Homo sapiens: one gene and its partners. The protein of the gene in region 1 purifies or fractionates together with the protein of each later gene. This does not show direct contact. Each region holds a gene or a part of one and is shown in the gene's direction. Other genes may lie near its edges.

Region 1 (3,500 bases):
CATGTAAATATCCAATTGTTCCAGCACCATTAGCTGAAAAGACTATTTTTTTCTCCATTTTAATGTCTTGGCACCCTTATTGAAAATCAGTTGACTATAGATGTATGGGTTTATTTATTTTATACTCTCAGTTCTCTTCCAGTGATCTATATGTCTCTCCTTATAGCAGTACCATGCTGTCTTGACTACTACAGTTTTTTAGTAAGTTTTGAAATTGAGAAGTGTGAGTCTTATTCTTCAACATTGTTTTGGTTATTCTGGATTCCTTGTATTTCCATATGGATTCTAGGATCAGCTTGTTAGTGTCTGCAAAGAAGCCAACTCAGTGGCATTCTGATAGGGATCTCATTGAATTTTTAGTTAAACTTTGGCAGTGTTGCCATCTTAGCAATGTTAAGTCGTCTGATCTATGAACATGAGATGTCTTTCCATTTATTTAGGTTGTCTTCAATTACTTTCAACAACGTTTTTCCGTTTAAGGAGTATAAATTTGCACTTTTGTTAAATTTATTTCTAAGTATTTTATTATTTATTTATTTTTTGATGCTATAGTAAAAGGAACTAGTTTCTTACTTTTATTTTTGGATTGTTCATTCCAAGAGTATAGAGGTACAGTTTTTACCTTGTGTCCTGCAACCTTGGTGAACTAGTTTATTGGTTCTAATAGTTTAGTGGACACCTTAGGATTTTCTATTTATAAGATTGTGTTAGCCATGGATAGAGATAATTTTACTTCTTTCTTTCCAATCCAGATATCTTTTGTTTCAATTTCCTGCTTAATTGCCTTGGCCAGAACCTTCACTATGGTTCAATAGAACTTGCAAGAGCAGACATCCTTGTCTTATTCCTGATCCTAGGGTGAAAGCTTTAGTCTTCTACCACTGAGTATGGGGTTAGCTATGGGTTTTTCATAGATGTATTTTATCAAATTGAAGAATTTCACTTCTCCTCCTAGTTTGGGTGTTTTTTTAAATCATGAAAGAGTGCTGGATTTTGTCAGATGCTTTTTTCTGCATCTATTAAGATGACCATTTTTTTTGTTCTGTTCATATGGTGTATTACATTAATTAACTTTTGAATGTTAAGCCAACCTTGTATTCCTGGGATAAATCTTGTTTGTCATGGTATATAATCCTTTTTCTTTGTTGCTGGATTCAGTTTGCTTGTATTTTATTAAGGATTTGTATCTATATCCATAAGAAATCTTTGTAGTGTTCTTTTTTGGTGATACCTCTGTCTAGTCTCCCCAAAATATTCTTGATTGAGTTCTGTCACCAACTAAAGAGCTTTTTTTTTTTTTTTTTTTTTGGAGATGGAGTCTCGCTCTGTTCCCAGGCTGGAGTACAGTGACGCGAACTCTGCTCACTGCCAGCTCTGCCTCCTGGGTTCACGCCATTTCTCCTGCCTCAGCCTCCCAAGTAGCTGGGACTACAGGCACCTGCCACCACGCCCAGCTAACTTTTTTTTTTTTTTGTACTTTTAGTAGAGACGGGGTTTCATCGTGTTAGCCAGGACGGTCTCGATCTCCTGACCTCATGATCCATCCGCCTTGGCCTCCCAAAGTACTGGGATTACAGGCTTGAGCCACCGCGCTTGCCTAAAGATCTTATCTATTTGATTAGTGGTATCCATATTTACAATCTCTTAAGTAAATCTGTTTTTTTTTTTTTTTTTTTAAGAGACGAGTCTACTCTGTTGCCCAGGCTGGAGTGTGGTGCTGATCTCGGCTCACTATAACCTCCGCCTCCTGGGTTCAAGTGATTCTCCTGCCTCAGCCTCCCAAGTGGCTGGGATTACAGGCACCCACTACCATACCCAGGTAATTTTTTTTTTTTTTTTTTTTTTTTTTTTTTTTTAGTAGAGATGGGGTTTTGCCATGTTGGCCAGGCTGGTCTTGAACTCCTTACCTCAGATGATCCATCTGCCTGGGCCTCCCAAAGTGCTGGGATTACAGGCATGAGCCACTGCATCTGGCCTTAAGTAAAGATTTAACAGAGGTAGGGAGTGGACTGTAGTTCTAAGTCAGCCCCTAATTTGCTATATGACCTGGGATAAGTCATTTTGCCTTTCTGAGCCCAAGTTTTTTGATTCATAAAGTAAAGGTGATGGACTGAGTTATAATCAAAGTATTTACGAGCATTAAAGCTCTTCTGTGGCATTTCCATGGAAATTCTGGTATAGACAAAGTTAGTTCCTTGTCTTTTCCCGATCCTAGGGGGAAGGCTTTAGTCTTCTACCACTGAGTATGAAGTTAGCTGTGAGTTTTTCATAGATGTTCTTTCTCAGGTTGACAAAGTTCTCTTCTATTCCTAGTTGGTTTGGGTGAGCTTTTTCTTTTTTTTTTAAATCTTTCGGCCAGACATGGTGGCTCATGCCTGTAATCCCAGCACTTTGGGAGGCCGAGGCAGGTGGATCACCTGAGGTCAGGAGTTCGAGACCAGCCTGGCCAACATGGTGAAACCCCATCTCTAGTAAAAATACAAAAACTTAGCTGGGCACGGTGGCGGGCACCTGTAATCCCAGCTACTTGGAAGCTGAGGCAGGAGAATTGCTTGAACCTGGGAGGCGGAGGTTGCAGTGAGCTGCGATCGCACCATTGCATTCCAGCCTGGGCAACAACAGCAAAACTCTGTCTCAAAAAAATAAAAAAATAAAAGGATGTTTCATGATAAAAAGTCCAGAGTGGTGATTTACTTTATTGTTGTTGTATTTTAAAATTTCATTTTATTGAGACAGAATCTCACTATGTTGCCCAGGCTGGTCTTGAACTCCTGGGCTCAAGCAGTCTTCCCATCTCTGCCTCCCAAAGTGTGGAGATTACAGGTATGAGCCACCATTCCCGGCTAGTGATTTACTTTATTTATTTATTTATTTATTTATTTATTTATTTATTTATTTTTATTTAGACAGGGTCCCACTCTGTCGCTCAGGCTGGAGTGCAATGGCGTGATCTCAGCTCACTGCAACCACTGCCTCCTGGGTTCAAGTGATCCTCCCACCTCAGCCTCCCAAGTAGCTGGGACTACAAGTGTGTGCCACCACACACCGCCACGCTTAGCTTATTTTTGTATTTTTTGGTAGAGGTGGGGTTTCGCTATGTTGGCCAGGCTGGTCTGGAACTCCTGACCTCACGTGCTCCACCTGCCTCGACCTCCCAAATGGCTGGAATTACAGACATGAGCCACCACACCTGACCCTATGATTTACTTTAAAAGATCATCCTGTTTTACCAAAGGATTCATGTTGGATCTGTTGAAAAACAACAGTTCCCTGCTGCTTTTTGAATGTGGTTCCATTAATAATGATTTGATTTGTAATTAGCTTTTAAGAAACATAACTATTAGTTCCAATAAGATACTTGCTTTTTTTTTATTTTTATTTTTTTAAACAAACATAGCTTACAAAAGCAAGCCGGCTGGGCGCGGTGGCTCACGCCTGTAATCCCAGCACTTTGGGAGGCTGAGGCGGGTGTATCACCTGGGGTCGGGAGTTTGAGACCA
Region 2 (3,500 bases), on another chromosome or scaffold:
TCTCCCCACAGCCCCTTGTTCATATATGCACATCTCTTGCCCTCAGTGGAGGGGATTTGACGGTGGTGTTCGCATTTCTCTATGTTCCTGACTCTCTTGCAGATCATTGCTGAAGGTGCCAATGGGCCAACAACTCCAGAAGCTGACAAGATCTTCCTGGAGAGAAACATTATGGTTATTCCAGTAAGTCATCTATATTTATTAGGCTTTATATGTACTTAGAATCATAATAGTCTTTTGCAAGGAATTTGGAGGAAGAGAGGAATTATTAGTCTCCAAGCTCTAGTGAATTCATCTTTTTCACTTTTGAGAAAATATAGTAGAAGCATGGTTAATTCTAAGCCTGTTAATTTTCACTTTGATCGAAACATTTATTCCAATTTCAGGCTCTTTACTGAATGTCTTTAGCCTTCTAAGAGTCTGGTTATATAAATGTGTACTGTGTTAGAAACACTATTCTAACTAAAGCTCTTAAGATTTTCTATATGATTCCTAACCTTATGCATTTCAAGTGCCCTTTCCAGCTTTACTCAGAAAACTAATATGAGGAACACGTGCTCAGGTTTTTTAGCAAGTAAAAATGAGTCTACACCAAAAAGTTACTAGAAATTAATGTGGGCTTGGAATATATTTTAAAGAACCCCCTTTGCTGAAAGCACTTAAGACATTTAATGTAACTGAAATGGGCTACCCTTAGGTAATAGGAGAAAGAATCCTGTCTTCTGAGAGGCCCTGTGGACAGTCCAGTCCAACTGGTTGGTGGGCAAGCCATTTAGTCTGAGAACTAACTTCTGGTAGAGAAGAGGCTCCAACCAAAGATTATTAACTTTCCTTGATTAATAAGCCAAAAAATGATTTTTTTTTTTTCCTAAATAGAAAAAGCCTTAGATGGAATTGGGTGGGATGGGAAGGAGTGTTAATTAAGTGTGAAATTCCTGATACTGGCTAAAATATATTTGCGATATTTAAAGTCCAGTCTACCTTGGTATTGAAATTAAGGTCTTAGGTTCATTTTCAGCTTTTACGAAAACCATCATCTTCTAATTTCTTTGTCTTATTTTTGTGCATAGGATCTCTACTTGAATGCTGGAGGAGTGACAGTATCTTACTTTGAGTGGCTGAAGAATCTAAATCATGTCAGCTATGGCCGTTTGACCTTCAAATATGAAAGGGATTCTAACTACCACTTGCTCAGTGAGTATCGATAATCTTGTTCGCCAAAACTCATCTTTTGAGCCAGCTGAAAGGCTGTAAAAAGGTCCACTTAAGAGAACTGATCCCTTTGGGAAAGAATTGAGTCTCAGAAAAGAAAATAATATTTTGTCTCATGAAACTTAGACCAAAAATGCACAATGTCTTTCTGGATATTAACTCTCCCATATATTATATCCAGAGTTTTATTCTGTGATGTAATATTCACAGAATATAATCTACATTTTTTTTTTCTTTTTTTGAGAGGGAGTCTCGCTCCGTCGCCGAGGCTGGAGTGCAGTGGCACGAACTCGGCTTACTGTAGCCTCCGCCTCCCAGGTTCAAGCAATTCTCCTGCCTCACCCTCCCAAGTAGCTGGGGCTACAGGCACTCACCGCCACGCCCGGCTAATTTTTGTATTTTTAATAGAGACGGGGTTTCACCATGTTGGCCAGGATAGCCTTGATCTCCTGACCTCATGATCCGCCTGCCTCAGCCTCCCAAAGTGCTGGGATTACAGGCGTGAGCCACTGTGCCCAGCCAATAATATTTTTTTAAGTGTGATTTTAAAACTCCACTGTCGATACTAATTTCTGTCTCTGGTTGCTCTTAGTAAAGGCCTATCTAGTGTCAAGAATTGTTTTTGAGACTCCTGATGAGAATACTTGTTTTTCTTTGACTAGAGTAAGCTCCACAGTTAAGAGTAGAATTTCTCATCTAGTTGAAATAAGACCAAGACCTCCTACTGAGCTTCTGTACTCAGCCCACTGTGAGAATCTGGGTGAAGTGTTCCATCTATTTCCTTTTCTTTTTCCCCCAGCGTTTTCTTTTTAATAGAGCCAAGGAAAAACCCTGGTAATGGGTGTTATGGAAACAGAGCAGTGACCTAAATTCACATTTATATAGGAAATTGGCAATGTGTTTTATTCCTTCCTGACTGAGTTTTAAATGATTAACCCTTTTATGTCATTAAAACTCTGTATAAGGCCAGGCGCAGTGGCTCACGCCTGTAATCCCAGCACTTTGGGAGGCCAAGGCAGATGAATCACGAGGTCAGGAGGTCGAGACCATCCTGGCTAACACGGTGAAACCCCGTCTCTACTAAAAATACAAAAAATTAGCTGGGCGTGGTGGCGCGCACCTGTAGTCCCAGCTACTCGCAAGGCTGAGGCAGGAGAATGGCGTGAACCCGGGAGGCAGAGTTTGCAGTGAGCTGAGATCACGCCTCTACACTCCAGCCTGGGTGACAGACCACGACTCTGTCTGTATAAGTTTTTGGGTTACAGTTATAGTTTGGGACTACTTTTGATTCTACTTTTTTTTTTTTTTTTCTGTTAGCAATATCTTGATCTCTTGTTATTTTTTTGTAGTGTCTGTTCAAGAGAGTTTAGAAAGAAAATTTGGAAAGCATGGTGGAACTATTCCCATTGTACCCACGGCAGAGTTCCAAGACAGGATATCGGTGAGTGTGGTGACCCCACAGTTGTACTTCACACATGCTCCCTGCTCTTTCCTTCAGACAGAGCTGGTTAGATGGATTTCATCTGCGGCATAGTCTTTGTAATTAGCTTGACAGTAAGTGCGTGACATGTGTGTTTTGTACCTTTCCTTTTCATTACATTCTAAAACTGGAGTAAGAATCCTACTGACTACTAACAAATATAAAATAAATAAATTTGGTATTTTTCACGCACGTGTTTTAACAGTGAAGGATTATTATGTATTTTAATTATTTTAAGCTTCAGAGAAATAGGAAGAATTGAAAAGCAAGCATTAGATTGAACTATATGGGAGTCCAAGAGTTTGAGACCAACCTGGGGAACATAGTGAGTCCCCATCTCTACAAAAATAAAGAAAGAAACAAGAGGCCAGGCATGGTGGCACACGCCTGTAATCCCAGCACTTTGGGAGGTCAAGGCGGGTGGATCACGAAGTCAAGTCATCGACACCATCCTGGCCAACATGGTGACCCCGTCTCTACTAAAAATACAAAAATTAGCCAGGCGTGGTGCTACACGCCTATAGTCCCAGCTACTTGGGAGGCTAAGGCAGGAGAATCACTTGAACCCGGGAGGTGGAGGTTGCAGTTAGCCGAGATTGCACCACTGCACTCTAGCCTGAGCAACAGAGAGATACTCCGTTCCCGCCGCCGCCACCCCCCTCCCCCCGCCAAAAAAAAGAAAGGAGGGATGGAGGGAGGGAAACTTCTTTACCAGTAAATGATGGAAGACAGGAAAAACAAAAGTCCATAACACATAAGCCTGGGGGAAAAATTTAACCTCATTGTTAAAGAAATACAAATTGAAAAA
Region 3 (3,965 bases), on another chromosome or scaffold:
AGCTACATGGCCTTGAAAAAGATTTTTAACCTCCCTGTAAAATTTAGATATTAACAAATGCCTACTTTTTTAAGTTAAAGACTAAATTAAAAGATACATGAAAATGCTCAGCACAATACCTAGCAAATAGCAAGAGCTTAATACATTTTGGCAATTATTGTGTACATTGATTTTAAATTTTCTCCCTGACCTTTTAATGCTAGTAAGTGGAATACCTCAAATCCTGATACCTATCAAGGATAATCTACCTGTAGGAAAAACCAGCTTCCAGGCAAAAATCATATCTGTTAAGAGTGGTCTCTGTACCTGGTGGGAAATTTCTTCCCAAAAATAGTAGATTCTTCTACCTACTCTCTTCTCCCTACGAATGCCAAGTATCAGTCCATGAAAGGAGACAAGAGTTGCTAAACTGGTTGGTAGTTTGTTTTGTTTTTATTTCATAATATGTATTGCCACCTTCCATGAACAGCCAAAAGAGAGCAGAGGACCAAATGACAGAGTGCATGCTCTCTCCTTTCAAGCTGTCCAGTCACTCTTTCATCAGGACACGGACCTCTTAGGGGATGAATGGTTTTATTTCCCCCAGAAATAAATTAGGCCAAGGAGATTGTTGGCAAGCACTGGGGCGAGACTGGCCCAACTACAGCATCCCTAGCCTGGGGACACCTTCTTCAGTGGACATGAATGGAATTGCTAGGCTTATGAGCTAGGATTAGGCTTGGGGAAGAAAGTGACTTTCAACATCTAGAAAAGCTAGCAGCAAAACTGAACACAAATGAGTTTAGCCTAGAGAATTCAGGGGAAAACTAAGCTCCAAGCGGAAGAAGGTAGTTCTAGATGAAAAACCTGTTTCACATAGACCTATGGAAAAGCACACTGCCCAGAGGACTGTCTGCGTTCCTTTATATCAACATTAAATATATATACTATCTCTGCCTACTCCCTCCCTGCCACCTGTCCTTCCAGTCTCAGCCCAAACCGGCTCCTCCTCCTTCCAGCCCTCCTTTTTTAAAGAGCTCTTTATTAGCTCTAAACAGGAAAGGGGAGGGTAGGAGATGATTGGCTAAGAGGGAACAGCACCACCCTGCTCATTCCCCTCCCATTCCCTCCCTGAGGAAACAGCTGGAATGAGAGGTAGGGAGGGGAGGCTAGGATTGGCTGAGTCAGTGGCAGGGTGGGGGCCAGGCAGCACAGATGAAGCATTTACCTATCTAGGTAAGTCAGGAGGAGCTCAAAAGGAGAAGAAAACAGTAGGAGGCAGGGGAAGCAGCCTCTGTCTCCATCTCTGCCCTTTGAAACAAAAGGGTATTTCTTTTCTCTCTTCAGCCCCCAACCCAGTGGAGGTGAGTTAATCACTAACCAACTATTGCTTATCCTATAGCAATAGGAAGGGGTTTCATGGGAAATCAGAGCTACAGGGGAGGGGAGGTGTCCCTCTATACCCCAGCTAGGGAGATTTCCTCTCTGTTCCTCAATTCTCTGAGTCCATTCTGGGATCAGATCAGGTTGGTAGCAACTTGAGATTGTAGTGTTTTTGTGGAGACTGGGGCTGGGAGGCACCTTCTTTTTCATTTATCCCTTTAGGTTGGATAGGCATATTGTGCAAACAACAAGAAAAAGAAAATAGATTTGTTTTGGAAATTTCCATCTCTGAACAATTGAAATTGAGTTGTGATTTTAGAAAAGAACAGTTGAAATAGAGGGAGTCAAAATGGGGGAGAGTATCTTGGTTTTCCATAGCGACTGTAACAGGAAATTCTCCCGTGGCTTTACCAACTCGGTGTCGATCTTTATTTAAATAATGGGTGCAATGTGTGTGTGTGTTTGATCATGCTCATGTGATAATGGAGCTCTCTGTGTACAGGTGTGTTAGGCATGAGCTGTACTAGGTTGTTTGTAAAGGGATATGAGGTTGGGGCACATGGAGAAAACTTCAGCTACCAGCTCATCTTTGGAAAACCCATGGATAATCTAGCTGCAAAGTCAAGTTTATTTGGATTCTACTCAATTAACTTTCTGACTCAGCCTGTTAATAGACACAGAGACTGGCAAACAGAAAGCTACCTGGCTGTGCCGAGCCTCACCCACATGAATATTTCGTGGCTGCATGTCAAGTCTAGTTAGAGTTCCAAGTGGGGCTCAAGCCAAGGTAGTGTGGCAGAGTCCACAGACAGAGAAGCAGACCAGGGTGGTGGCTTTGTTTGTTTTCCTGCAGGTGTCCCAGTTGGCAGTTTGTGTGGCAGATTTACCTGCAGAAGGAAGGCAGATGTAGGAGTCGAGTCAGAGTAGCAAGTTGCCTCTCCATTATCCATCTTGGGGGGTTTAACCCTTTGGTCCCTAACTTTGACTCTTTTCCTCCTGCTGCAGAGAAGAGGGAAGTGGGAAGCCCTCAGTGCCAGGCTCAAGGGCCTGGCACACGCAGCCCTGAGTGAATATATGGGTTTTCCAGTCCTGGCAACTGGAGATTTAGGCTTGAGCTCACCTCACACCACAGAGCCAACACCCCACACTCACAGACTGAGGGCTGCCCTAGATGGTGAATTTAGGAATAAAGACCACTGGCAGTGTCTAACAAAGCTCTGCTATGCAGAGGGTATTTCTACCTGCTCCTTCCCTCAAACACACTGGTGAAAGGGAAGATGATAATGTTGCCTAAACACACACAGAAACTTGCCCATGTGTTCATGGAGACAGATATGCAAACTGTGCAAGTTTTAGTCATTCTGCTATTTTTCTTAGGATATTTTCCAGCCCAAGGCACATTTCTGGGTAGTCAACAAGAAGCAAAGACACCTGGATTGAAAGACAGGAAACCTCTTTGACTAGTAGGCAGAGAGGCAAAGCTCTTGGAGGACATGTGGGGGGTTCGTGGGAGGAGGATGAGAGGGACCTGGGTCTGATTAGAAGGTACAGACAAGCCAACCTGGAATGGAGCTGGAGCCCTCTCCCCACCCCACCATCTCCAGATGCCAGAACTTGAACTGTTCTTTATTTCCTCTCCTCCAAGGCTTGGCAGTATTTAGTATTTTAGTCAGTGGTGTAGTTAATATTTAATGTGTCTTTGGATGGGTGGCCCTGACTATAGGTGCTGCATATTTCTTAACCCATTCCCTCCTCCCGTTAAGTTCCCAAAGAGGTCAAGGGTTAAGATACCAAACTCTCACCTTGAGTGTTTTGTTTGTTTCTCAGTCTTCTTATCAGGGTTTCGATGGCTGCCCTGAAAGAGCCCCAAGGTTCAAGGTTGTGAAGTCGGTGAAAGGAAATGCAGCTTTCACCATTAAGATTCTTTAGGTCAGAAAACTAGGTATGGAGATGAGGTGACAGCGCCTCGCTCAGCTTTGGTTTCAGGTTCAGATTCCTCTGTGCAGGGATTATGTAATCCCTAAAGACATGATCTTCCTTGGCAGTTGGTGTCATTTCTTTACTGTAGAAATATCTGCTGTTGGGGCAATACACTGGTCTGGAAGTATAAAGCTGAAGCAGATGATTTGCAGGGTTTAAGGTATGAAGTAGAAGGAGAAGGGGGTTTTAAGGCTTTTAGTATTTTAGTCAGGGGTGGCTAGTAACCATTCTCGGGGGCATGCCCCTCTTGCATCCAGATAGTCCCTGAAATGCCCTGTGGAGGGCTGCCCTGTATATGCATGTATAGGTCATTCCCTGTTTCCCTTAGGAAGGGCTAGTGGTAAGAGCCATAACTTTCTCACCCGTAAAATGAAGAAAACGTCACATCCTGCCTATGTTTCCAGTTTATGCTGAAGATCGAATTAGCATATCTGAGAGTACTTTGCAAGCTATGGCATGCTGTGTTCTTGTGAAGCAGTGCTTTTCCTACCACTTTTATCTCTTCCAGCTACTTGAAGACATCCTAGGTTCTGAAACAAAAGTGTGATAAGCTTCCCTGGTAGGAAAGAGAGACTAGAAAACCTCTGTAAAGTCTAAAGCATACTTAGAAGCACAAGGGTAGT
Region 4 (3,500 bases), on another chromosome or scaffold:
CTGTCTGCAGTCCCCAGCATAGAGCTTTGTATGTAGTAGATGCTCAATAAATGCTTGCAGAATCTAAGTGAACTAGCAACTAGAGTTAACTAACAAGAGAATGGGCCATATAGCGGGGGGTATAGCAAGTCACACTCTTTAGGAATTCTAGGAGATTCCTACACTGAGAGGGGATAGGTCTCTCCAGCTAGGTTATTTTATGATGTTATAAAGTGCTCTGCTCTGAACTCTTGCCTTTTCCCACCTACCTTTATTCATTTAGCAAATATAGTTAATGAGGCTCTACTGTGTGCCTGTGCCTTGGTCCTTGCCTCCAAAGAATATAATCTAGTAAAGAGCAGCAGATATGTGTAGACAAACAAATGCAATACAGTAGTATAGGTGCTAGTAATGGTGTTTAGATAGCCCTGCCATTTAGTGGTTGCATTTAACTTTGAACAACTCTCTAAATTTTCCATTTCCCCAACTGTAAGAGTATGTAAAATAGTACCTTTCTCTCGGGGTTGTGAGAGACCAAAATGAGTTGTCCTAGGCAAAGCATTTGTGTGGCTAGCATATTACACTGGCTTTGTTAAGTGGTACCCCTCATTAGTGCGATGATGATTAGGAGTCCATTGTATGGGGTAAGGACTGATGTCACGAAAAGGTTTCTGAGAGAAGATGATTCTTGCTTTGGACAGGAGACTCATTCTTCTACAAGTACTGGCTGAGTGCTTCCTATGAATGGCAAAGCAAAAGTGAGTTGCTAGAAATATACAAAAGGAACCCAACTAACTAAGGAAGGAGGCAGCAGTTAGATAATTATTTAATTACGGTTGTGATGAGTGCTTGTACAGAAAAGTCCAGTATGCATTGAGAGTATATAATTTGGAGATCTGTCCTAGTCTAGCAACCTAGACTAGATCAAGAAACTTAGGCAGAGGTTTCTTGGGGAAAGTGATATTTGAGTAGAATCTTGAAGGATTAATGGGACTTAGAAGGTGTAAAGGGCAAGGGTAGAGTGTACAGGCAGGAACAGCACCTTCAAAGGCTTGGGATGACCTCAGAAGAACGGGAGACCAGCAGGGCCCTGGGTAGGCATTGTGAGGTGTTTTGTTTTGTCTTTAATCTTAATGGAAATAGGAAAACACAGAAAATTTCAAAGTAAGAGTCTGACGTAATCAGATTTAGAAAGATCATTCTGGCTTCTGGCGTGGAGAGTGGCTTGGTGGTTGGACCTCTACCCACAGTAAAAAACACATTTTACTTTGGGACCTGGCATACACAACCTTCACAAAACAATGCCTGCCCTTGAAACAATACATAGTTTCACTCCCTGCTCTCTGATATTTTTTATTCTATTTTATTTCAATTTTATAAAAACCCTGGCTTTGACCCGCTAATGGGAGTTGGAATCCATAGTCTATAGATTGTGAAACTAGATGTCTCTTTAAGATCACTTCCAAATCTGATCATATGTGCTGAAATACCATTCCTCTAGCTTTTGGCCTTTCCTGAACTGGGTCTAAAAAGATTAGCCATTGTTCACCCAACAAACAGCAGGGGCGGCCTAAGGCAGGGCAGTGCAGGCTAAGGATGTCCACAGCACAGAAGTCTGCAGAGGGGCACAGTGATACAAGTAGTTGGGAATGGCTGAAATAAGGATGGATTGACAAGAGGCCAAGTGTGGTTGAGGATGTGTACCTCAATTTCTTTTTCTCTAAAATGGGATGATAATAATTACTACCTCAAAGGGTTGTTTTGAGGATTGAATGAGATAATGCATTCAGGAAACGTTTTCTGTTGATGTTATTGTATTTGCATTATCGTTGTTACTATGGAGGATCTTGGAAGGTGCCATATTAAAGACTTAATTTTGTGGACTATGGAGTTGTAAATTGAGGGAACAAGATCAGATTTGTGTTTGATGACAATTCTGCAGATATAGGGGGTGGCCTAGTGTAGGGGTATGAAGCCAGAGGTAGGGAGAACAGTTAACTGGAACCTAGAAAATTGAGCAAGGGGTATGATCAGGCAGCTCACAGAAGAAATATAAATGACTAATAAAAGAAGGAAAGATCCTTGACTATATTGGTGATCAGAGAAATGCACAGTTTAAAAAGATAGGAGTTTTTGTAATCAAATTGTCAAAAATTTAAAACATTGAAAATTTCTGATGTTAGAGCTTTGGGAAAAGGGCATTTTCTAACTCTTGTTAGTGAGAACATAAATTTGTACAACCTGTTTAAAGGACAATTTGGCAGAACTTATCAAAGTTGTAAAGGTTCATTCTCTTTGACCCAGGTGTTGTACTTTAAGGAATTTATCCCATTAGACTTGCCTACAAGTACAAGGGTTTGTGTGCAAGGATAGTTATTGTAACATTAGGAGTAGCCAGAAATTTCAGGCAGCTTGTCTATCACTAGAGAAAAAAACACACCATGATGCATTCATACATGCTATCTTTTGTAGCCATTCAAAAGGTCATGGTGGTTCTGTAAAGCATTGTTATGGGAGAAGATCCATGGTGGGAAGACGCCTGCTGCAGAATAGTATGTGTAGCATGTATCATCTCATTATTGTGTTTTATATGCATAGAAAAAAATCAGGAAAAACATACATCAAATAGTGGGTTTAATTAATTGCTCCTAATCAAGCAAGTAGTTGGAAGCAAGGGAATTAAGGGCTTTAATGTTTTATGTTAGATACTTGTTTAAATGTTTTAAAAATACTTTTGGGCCGGGCGCGGTGGCTCACGCCTGTAATCCCAGCACTTTGGGAGGCAGAGGTGGGCGGATCACGAGGTCAGGAGATCGAGACCATCCTGGCTAACACGGTGAAACCCCATCTCTACTAAAAATACAAAAAATTAGCTGGGCGTGGTGGCGGGCGCCTGTAGTCCCAGCTACTCAGGAGGCTGAGGCAGGAGAATGGCCTGAACCCGGGAGGCGGAGCTTGCAGTGAGCCGAGATTGTACCACTGCACTCCAGCCTGGGCGACAGAGTGAGACTCCGTCTCAAAAAAAAAAAAAAAAAAAAAAACTTTTGGTGATCACCTTTTCATTTATCTCTTTTTTTTTTTTTTTTTTTAAATCTCTCTCTGTCACTTAGGCTGGAGTGCAGTGGCACGATCTCAGCACACTGCAACCTCCACCTCTCGGGTTCAAGCAATTCTCCTGCCTCAGCCTCCCACGTAGGTGGGATTACAGGCGTGAACCACCATGCCTGGCTAATTTTTGTATTTTTAGTAGAGACGAGGTTTCACCATATTGGTCAGGCTGGTCTTGAATTCCTAACCTCAGGTGATCACCTGCCTTGACCTCCCAAAGTGCTGGGATTACAGGCGTGAGCTACTGCACCCGGTTCATTTATCTCTTTTTGCAGGCATGCTTATATCACACCTACATAAGTTTACACACGTGGGATCATTATCACATATCATTTTTATTGTGGACCCCTCCCCTTATGGGCATCCAACCTCCATTTCCACATTCCGCCCTGTACTCAGGTACCTCTTGATAT

Evidence for each region. The genes of interacting proteins can lie anywhere in the genome.
Region 2: the proteins of RPS6KA5 (region 1) and GLUD1 purify together in Homo sapiens (affinity purification with mass spectrometry; one large-scale study listed by BioGRID and IntAct). This does not show direct contact.
Region 3: the proteins of RPS6KA5 (region 1) and C1orf116 fractionate together in Homo sapiens (co-fractionation; one large-scale study listed by BioGRID). This does not show direct contact.
Region 4: the proteins of RPS6KA5 (region 1) and MOV10 purify together in Homo sapiens (affinity purification with mass spectrometry; one large-scale study listed by BioGRID and IntAct). This does not show direct contact.

Annotation. Positions count from the first base shown.
Region 1 is NC_000014.9:91,050,642-91,054,141, reverse strand, and holds part of RPS6KA5 (ribosomal protein S6 kinase alpha-5), read left to right. Parts: intron 1-1,679; exon of another isoform or gene 1,680-1,819; intron 1,820-3,500. UniProt on the Homo sapiens protein: Serine/threonine-protein kinase that is required for the mitogen or stress-induced phosphorylation of the transcription factors CREB1 and ATF1 and for the regulation of the transcription factors RELA, STAT3 and ETV1/ER81, and that contributes to gene activation by histone phosphorylation and functions in the regulation of inflammatory genes.
Region 2 is NC_000010.11:87,056,844-87,060,343, reverse strand, and holds part of GLUD1 (glutamate dehydrogenase 1, mitochondrial isoform a precursor), read left to right. Parts: intron 1-102; coding exon 103-183; intron 184-1,070; coding exon 1,071-1,194; intron 1,195-2,561; coding exon 2,562-2,653; intron 2,654-3,500. UniProt on the Homo sapiens protein: Mitochondrial glutamate dehydrogenase that catalyzes the conversion of L-glutamate into alpha-ketoglutarate. Plays a key role in glutamine anaplerosis by producing alpha-ketoglutarate, an important intermediate in the tricarboxylic acid cycle.
Region 3 is NC_000001.11:207,029,957-207,033,921, reverse strand, and holds the start of C1orf116 (specifically androgen-regulated gene protein), read left to right. Parts: upstream 1-1,165; 5' UTR 1,166-1,343; intron 1,344-3,965. UniProt on the Homo sapiens protein: Putative androgen-specific receptor.
Region 4 is NC_000001.11:112,677,659-112,681,158, forward strand, and holds part of MOV10 (helicase MOV-10), read left to right. Parts: intron 1-3,500.